Regions from separate parts of the Homo sapiens genome. Here region 2 is linked to region 1. Evidence: fine-mapped expression QTL. A gene starts in region 1. The other region holds a variant in brackets. All regions are shown on one strand. Distances are from middle to middle.

Region 1 (4,395 bases):
TGTGATTTTTAAAAAGGAGGGTTTTTTTTTTGGTGGGGGGGCGGTTGGATTTTTGTTTTGTTTTGTTTTTGAGATGGGGTCTCACTCTGTGGCCCAGGCTGGAGTGCGGTGGCGCCATGGAAGTTTTTGTTTCTAAAGGGTCCTTTCCTTTGGAGCTCCAACTCTACTAAGAGGCCATTCATATTCCCAACATTCCAGGGTGCCCAAAGGAAAGACCTGGCCAGTTATTTCAGCATCAATTCACAAAATGGGGCGTTGGAAGGGGAAAAACAGCTGCTCTAGTTGGGCAGTGATTATTAAACCCCTCCCAAAAATGGAGTGGACAATTTCCAAGATCTCATCATGTTAGAAAACTTTCATTCGCCGATTTCACTTTTCAAGTGAATCCTAAAGCCTGTTTCCTTAATCTTCATAATTTTGGACATTCCACAGCCCGACCCACGCGTTTATCTTTCACTGGGCTGCAGTGATTCCCCTTGTTACCAAAAGGGGCCCAGCCTCCGCCAGCAGAGGCCTCCTGCGGAGCTGGGGGCGGGACCTCTGGGCTGGGTCCCCCTCTCCCTGTGCGCTGGCTGGCGGCGAGTGCAGTGACTGATTTCCTCTGCTCGCCTTCCCGGAGGTCCCCACCCACGCCACTGCCAACGCTCGGAGGAAGTCACGTTCAGGCCCCAGAGCTGGTCTGAATCTTCCAGGAGGAAAAGAGGGGGTGCATGTGTGCGTGTGTGTGTGGTAGTGTGTGTGTTGTATGTCTAAGAGGTAGCAAGTGTGTTTGTGTGCGTGATATGTGTGTTTGAGAGGCAGCAAATGTGTGTGTTGTATGTGTGTTTGAGAGGTAGAAAGTGTGTGTGTGGGGGGGGGGGTATGTGTGCCTGAAAGGCAGCAAGTGTGTGTGCGTGTGGTATGTGTGTTTGAGGGGCAGCAAGTGTTTGAGTGTGAGTGTGTGGTATGTGTGTTTGAGGGGTAGCAGGAACCCTAGCTTGGTGTCTGTCAGTAACTAGATGGTGATGCAGGTAAGTGATTTTCCCGTTGAGTGGATTAAATTCCTAGTCTGTCAGAGAGGGTGTTGACCTAGAATGACTGCGCAGGTCTCCTGTCCAGTGTTAAGGAGCGTGAGTGCCCTGATGTCCCCAGGAGTGCTGCAAAAAGAGCAAAATGGCATATATCAGGCGTCCCCGAGATGCTGGCATCTATGTTAAAACTATCTTATTTCATCTTCCAACTACTCCTTACAATAGGTGCCCTGATCCCAATACAAGATTGAAAACTGAGGCTCAGAGTCTGCGGTATGCTGTCCAATATGTATGTATACACAAACACACACACGTATATACGTATGTTTGTGTGTATATACGTATGTGTATATATGCACATATATGGGTGTGTATGTATATATTTTACAGCCCATTTGGGCAAATGAGTGAGCCCCAGCCAGAAGCAAGCGCCCCCGCTGCCCCTGGGCAGTGGGCTCGGTACCGCCACGCACCCGTCCTATGTGTTACCTGGTCGCTGCTCACTGGAGTGAAAGCCATTTAGTGGCTGATCCAAGGGAAGTATGAGCTAGTGGCATGTCGAGACAAACCTGGATTTGATTCGCAGCTCTGCCTTCTGTTTGACTACAAGCAAGTAACAAGCTTTTGGAGCCTGTTTCCTCACTTCTAAGTGACGCTAATTATAGTATGTACATCACAAGGATAGTGACATAAGTGATGACTGTGACCAAACTTGGATCACCAAGCCTGCACCCAGGGAGCGCTCAGTAACGCAGCGCTGAGGAGTAGGCCACCCCGGAGGGCTCCAGGTTTCAGCGCAGGCTTCCGCGGAGCCAGCTGGATGCGTCACCATCCGAAAGTGCGAGCCTGGCCGGCGGCGGCGGAGGCGGGGGCACCGCGCAGTTGGAAGCCCGGGCGCTCTTACCGAAAGCGCGAGCCCGGACTTCCCCGCCACGATCGATGTGGCCAGTCTGCGCCTGCCGCAGTTCCCGCTCGCACCCCGGCCCCTCGCAGAGTCCCAGGAAAGCGCTGTGGCGGGCGGGCAGTCTCTGCCCCCGGGAGGGGACGCACGCACGCGCTGCTCCTTCCAGGTCCCGGCGGGGAAGCGATGCTTTCTTGGCCCGGGCTTGGGGCCAGCGGGAACCGGGCTGTCCGGCCGCGCCGTCGCGCCTCGCACGGCGTGAGACAACCTAGCTTTTTTTTTTTTTTTTTTTTTAAGAAAAGCATTGGCACCGCAGCAGCCTCCCCCGCTTCTTCCCTACTAGGACGCCCGCCTGACTCGCCCCATTGCACAATTCTTACCGTGGAACAGCCGCGTGACTCGGCGGGAGCCCAAAAGTTTCCCAGGTTTCCTCAGCCTAGAAAAGCGTGGGTGGGTGTCCCGGCCTGGCTCCAGGCGCCCTTTAAGTTGTATTTCTTCGGGTAACTGGGTTGCCCTTTAAAATGTGGAGATTGTCCTTTAGAAAGAAAGAAAATCTCACGAGCTCGCTGGCCCGCCAGGTCTAGGTTGGCGCCGGGTGACTGCAATGAAACGCGTTTCTTTTCCCATGTACATTTTCAGACGGTAAAAGTGTTTCGATTTGTTTGGGGGAGAAGTCAGGCGCTGGTTTTAAAGGAGGAAGGGGAATGATGCTTAAAAGCAGAGACACGATTTGGAGCTCTCCAAGAATCATAGTGTTTATTAACAATGATTGTGCTTAGTAGACACTGAGAAAATATCGAACGAATGAGTATTTGGAGGAGGGATTTAAATGGGTGTCTATAGGCCAACGCTTTCATTCTGCTGATGAGAAAACCTAGAGGTTAAGTGATTTGCCCAAAGTCACCTAGCTAATTAATGTGGAAGGCAGGAATGGAATCTGTCTCGTTTTGACTCCAAATTCTTGTTATGAGATGGGTGCGTTTTCCCCTCTTTATGAAAAAAAAAAATGCCTTCTGTAGTAATCTCTGTAAAGCCTTACTCCACTCCCTCTGTCTACGCATCTAAAGCAAACATACAAAACAAAAAAGAAAACAGCAATCCCCAAATGCAATCCATGCACTCAAATAGGCTAAATTTGGCAATGCCAAAACAATATATTAACAAGGCATTTTAGTTCTTATTCCTATAAATAACACTTTTTTGTTTTGTTTTGTTTTTTGAGACGTATTCTCGCTCTGTCGCCCAGGCTGGAGTGCAGCGGCGCGATCTCAGCTCATGGCAACCTCTGCCTCCTGGGATCAACTGACTCTCCTGCCTCAGCCTCCCGAGTAGCTGGGATTACAAGTGTGCACCACCATGCCTGGCTAATTTTTGTATTTTAGTAGAGACGGGGTTTCACCATGTTGGCCAGGCTGGTTTCAAATTCCTGACCTCAGGTGATCCACCCGCCTCAGCCTCCCAAAGTGCTGGGATTACAGGAATAAGCCAACCTGCCTAGCCAATAGTACTTTCTTATTCACACAAAATATGTGAAGAAAAGGAGGAAGAGGAGGAGGAGGAAAAACAGAATAAGCAAAACAGTGCTTCTCCAAGATGATATGGAAAATACCAAGCTCCCACTAACCTTACTTTTGTAAGTAAGGTGTTTGGTGCTCTGCATAGAAACTGCTGGACTCGTGAGTGACCATCAGGGTTGATCTAAGATTGTCAGTTATTTCACTCAGGCTTTGACTGGATTTGTTGCTCATCTTTCAGAATAGACAGATGCAATCTGTGCAAACACAAGGGACTTCAATGACAATCTTGCAAATAGCTAGACAGCTTTTGTCTTTGACGTTTCTAGGCTGACCAACTATACCAAATGTCTGATTTAGGAACCAAAATTGCAAAACAAGTAGATGTGAAGATCAAAGGAATCAAGACTATAAGTAGGGATTATGACTAAAAATTCTTTTACGTGTTGTCTGTGGTGTTTCCACAATAATAATTACAATGTGGTTATAATAATATAATCCAAGTACAACTTCTTATCCAGGAAGAAGCTGGGACTTCCAGTGATGAGCAGACCAGAAGACCAAATTGTGAAATGTCTCATTTCAGCCAAATACCTTCTGAAATGGAGACAATTCTCATATTTCACTCTGCTATCTTCACTACCCTTTATTTCTGATATCGTGAAGGTGGGGATGTATACTAATGTCTAAAAATTTTTGAAATTCTAAGAGGCTAAATAGAATCTGCTAATTTTAGTTTGATAATCCACAATATTCCTGAAATCAAAGCATCATCTCCTATATTTTTCCCATACTGTGATTTCTAGTTTGTCATTATACCAGGCTACTGAATCTGAACTCAAGAAACAAACAAACAAACAAAAAGCATTTTATCAAACGAAAACTGTAAGACCAGCCTGGCCAACATGATGAAGCCCCATCTCTACTAAAAATACAAAAATTAGCAGGGCATGGTGGCACGCACCTGTAA
Region 2 (4,395 bases), 53 kb after region 1:
CGTGATGGCACCACTGCACTCTAAGCCTGAGCTATGGAAGACCCTGTCTCCCCTGGGCCCCCCAAAACAGGATAAGGCAAGTTTGTGGCACACTTAAAATTGGGTGGTTATTCAGAGAAGCTAGAAATGTACTAGGCATAGCAAAATATTTGAAATTAGCGTGGCAGGCAAGAACAACAGCTAGCTGTCTGCTCCAACTCTGTGTAGTATGATCAAGGTAGAATACTGTGCAGGATCTGGTGGAGGTAGTCTAATGTTCCTAAAACTAAAATCTGATTTTAGTTTTAAAAGCATGACCCTAAGTGAGGACTTTGTGATGAAACAGATACGGTCCACAAATGAATCCTTTTTACCCACAGCTAATAAAACATGTGATCCCTTAGGGAAGGTTACTGCTATTTCCAGCCTCAATTATTATATTCTTATTATCAAATTTAAGCATGTAACAACAAATAGGAAAACTATTCGTGACAGACAGCAAGCTGTAGAATGCTCCTTTAATGAAGCTGCTAATACTTGACTTGTAAGACTAACCAGGATACTTTTTAAAACTATACTTAATACTATTATTTCATATATTGTATGTTTATATTTTAATAACATGCCACATTTAAATGCTGCTTTAGTCTCTTATATATATGATTTTATATATATGATTTCCCTAAGAAGGGAAAGGTCTGGGATTGGTGAATCCTCAAGTAATTTGAAACACTAAACATTAGGAGTATTTTAAATTACCTGAGGATTCACCAATCCCAGACCGTTCCCTTCTTATGAGTTCTTCCATAGGTTGTCAGAAATTCCTTTTCTGTTTAAAAAAACTCCAAAGAATTTCAGGAGTGGTAGCATAACTCCAAAGACGTGGGCAGTTGAGGCAACTGGAACAGGAAGAGGACCAGTGAGTTGCCCAATCTCACCAGAAAAGACATAAAGCCAGCAAGAGATGCCACATCAGGTGACTTCTTGTCCACGCCTTTTTCTCATTGTTTTTAATATTCATTGCTACTATATTGAGTTTTCTTTACATTTTACACAATTCTAAAGCTATGCTATGTTGGAAACCCTGGAAACATGTGTAAAGGACTTCAGATTAGAGAACTTGAAATGCATAAAGACATGGCAATTACATTTTAATTGCTTACTTGAAACAGCAGTTATCTTCACACGGAAAACTAAGGGAGAGCAGAGAAATCAACTAAATCCTGTTTTTGGCTTCAAGAGGGTTATTATCCTGAATCTCTTTTATTGTGGTAAAATACACATAAAATTTTCCATTTTTAGGTGTACATTGTGTCATTAAGCACATTCATGTTGTTGTGCAACTGCCATCATCCATCTCCAGAATTTTTTCATCTTCCCCAAATACAACTCCATTAAACACTAACTCTCCATTCCCCCCTCTCCCCCAGCTCCTGGCAACCATCAGTTCCTGGCTGTATGAATTTAACGACTCTAGGAGCCTCATGTGAGTGGAATCATAACAGTATACACCCTTTTATGTCTGGCTTATTTCACTTAGCATGGTATCTTCAAGGTTCATCCATGTTGTAGCATATGTCAGAATTTCCTTCCTTTTAAGGCTGAATCATATTCCAATGTAGGTATACACTACATTTCATTTATCTACTTATCCATCAATGGACACTTGGGTTGCTCCTTTTAGTTATTGTGAATCATGTTGCTATAAACATGGGTATACAATATCTGTCAGAGTGCCGCCTTTCACATCTTTTGGGTATGTATCCAGAAGTGGAAATGCTGGATTATACGGTATTCCTAGGTTTAATTGCAATCTTACCATCTCACATACTTCACCTAAACTGAAAAATGTAACGAATATACCAACCAAACACACACTGTGTTTTAAGCAAGGCAGTGGAAAAACCCCATTGGATCTGTCTTGCATCACTTCTCTCTTAACCTGCTGGAACACCTTACGTCTATGAAATGCCTTGAAGATGCCAAAGACCTCCAGGTCCAGGCAAGCTTCTGGAGCTCCTGCTGCAGACTAAGCCTCAGCCTTCTTGTTTAGAGGAAAGGGGACCCAGCATGACTCTGTCCGTAGTGCAGGGTGACTGCAAATGACACCCAACACTCAGTTCTTCAACACCCCACAGGCCTGGTTGTAGATTTTGAGGTCAAGGTTGGGTAAGTATAAAACCCAATGAATTTTT[A/G]TAAAACTAGTAACGGGGAAAACAGGAAGATCAGGGAAGGTGGTGAAATCTTCACCAAGGCCAATGATTGCACAACACATAACTTCTTGAAGCACTTTTTTCCACCTGCTCAAACACTAAACATAAGGAGTGTTTCAAATTACTTGAGGATTCACCAATCCCTAACTTTCCCTTCCTAAAAGTTCTTCCAGAGTTTCTGTCAGAAATTCCTTTTAAGAAAACTCCAAAGAATTTCAGGAGTGGTAGCATAATAACTGGGGAGACCCCTCTCTCTAATTAATCAAAAACGTAGTGTAGCTTATATAGCTTAGAGAAATTGTGGATCTATGAGGACATGTGAAGGTACTGGGCTATAATGTGGTCAATGTGTCTGAAAAAATAACAGTTCTGGGCCAACCAAGTGTGGCTCAAGGGATCACTACTAAGAATGGTTCCTCTTTGGGTAGAGCAGAGGGAAGAGACACTAAAGGGAACTGCAATCACCAGCAAAGGAACACAGTGACCATCAATGTCTGAGGACTGGCACAATGAAGGATAAGAAAGAACCTCTCTGTACGAGGCCTACTCCCTTTCAGTTCCCTTTCTTCCCCATTGTGTCCCAGTGGAGGACCTGATAATACACCTGACCCATATCTAAGACATGCAGTTGGCAGGGCTGATAGTAGGTAAGGTTCACAGTATGTTAAAAAGTCACACGAGGCCGGGTGCAGTGGCTCAATGCCTGTAATCTCAGCACTTTGGGAGGCTGAGGGTAGGAGAATCACTTGAGGACAGGAGTTTGAAACCAGTTTGGGCAACATGGTGAAACACCATCTCTACCAAAAATACAAAATTACATGGGCATGGTGGTGCACACCTGTAATCCCAGCTACTCGGCAGGCTGAGGCATAAGGATCACTTGACCCCGGGAGGCAGAGGTTGCAGTGAACCAAGACTGAGCTACTGCACTCCAGCCTGACCGCAGACTGAGACTCTTTCTTTAAAAAAAAAAAAAAAAAAAAAAGTCACAAATGGTTTTTCTCTCCCTGGCCCCTCTTCTCTCTGTGGTAGGTAGGTTCAAATTACAGCCTAACCTCAGCCATCTCTGTTCTCTTTGCTCAAGCATATGGGTCACTGCTTTGGGTTCCTACACCAGTCAGACATCCACAGGCTCCCAGATACAGACATGAGCCTAGGATGAGGTAATATACCCGATTAGGCTCTGAGCCTAAAACACGTTCCATGAAATTACCTGAGCCTTCCTTGCACAGTACTGTGATCTAAGATCTAACACATAATCAAGTCATGCACTTTGTTTCTTATTTGCTATTGTTACATGTGTACAGTGTCCTTAGGAGTCTACAGGGAAGAGGGATAATTGGCAGAGATTGGCATTGGCAGAATCCTGGGTTCTCCAATAACCACCTTTCACCCCCAGCAGTACTCTCTAGAGTAAGATGGAGGTTGAAGATGTGTGCTGTTAAATTTCCTAATCCTGGCTGGGTATAGTGGCTCATGCCTGTAATCCCAGCACTTTGGGAGGCTGAGGTGGGAGAATCAATTAAGCTCAGGAGGTCAAGACCAGCCTTGGCAACATAGTGAACTCCTGTCTCTACTAAAAATTTGCAGGTGGGTGGCCTGAGCCTGTAGTCTCAGACTCGGGAGGTTGAGGTGGGAGGATTGCTTGAGCCTGGGAGATCAAGGTTGAAGTAAGCTATGATCATGCCACTGCACTCCCGTGTGGGCAACAAAAAAAAAATTTCCTAGTCTTTCATGCACGTGATGCTGGCTTGGTGTTTACAGCTTCGTATTCCTGAAATCGATATGTGCCAGATATCACTGCAGACTAGTCCTTATTTGATAGAAATAAAATAATTTACATTTTATTTTCATGTAAATGTGACAGCAGCAGCAATAACATAGGCATTCAGTAAATATTCTTTTGAATTAGGCCAGATCCTAAATATCCTGAAAGAAACATGACATGTCACTATCTACTCCTTCAAGACAAAGATATACTTTTTTTCTTTCTTCACTTCAGTAAGCTGGTCTACAATGATGGACTTTTATTTATGCAACAATTTCAATACTGTTCAACATATTGGGCTTTTTTTTTCTCCCTGTAAGTAGAATCTGATTTTGAAATCTAGTAGTGTACTGACAAGTGCCAAGCTGTTCTAATTAGGTTACCTTTCACATTTATAAAAATGGTACGAAGTTCTCTGAATACCATTCCAGAAAT

The links. PIP is the estimated chance that this variant, and not a neighbour inherited with it, causes the effect.
Region 2: its variant is fine-mapped to the expression of LINC01359 in whole blood (TOPMed, PIP above 0.99).

The regions. Positions count from the first base shown.
Region 1 is chr1:65,000,830-65,005,224 of GRCh38, forward strand. LINC01359 (long intergenic non-protein coding RNA 1359) reads right to left here and starts at 1,647. Exons shown (of 7, transcript NR_119383.1): 1 at 1,500-1,647. It also overlaps a transcript of JAK1 not described here. RefSeq lists an enhancer at 1,663-1,742 and a silencer at 1,873-2,012.
Region 2 is chr1:65,053,769-65,058,163 of GRCh38, forward strand. MIR3671 (microRNA 3671) reads right to left here and starts at 4,074; the gene lies at 3,987-4,074. It also overlaps a transcript of JAK1 not described here. The variant A/G (reference allele first, on the strand shown) is at 2,175.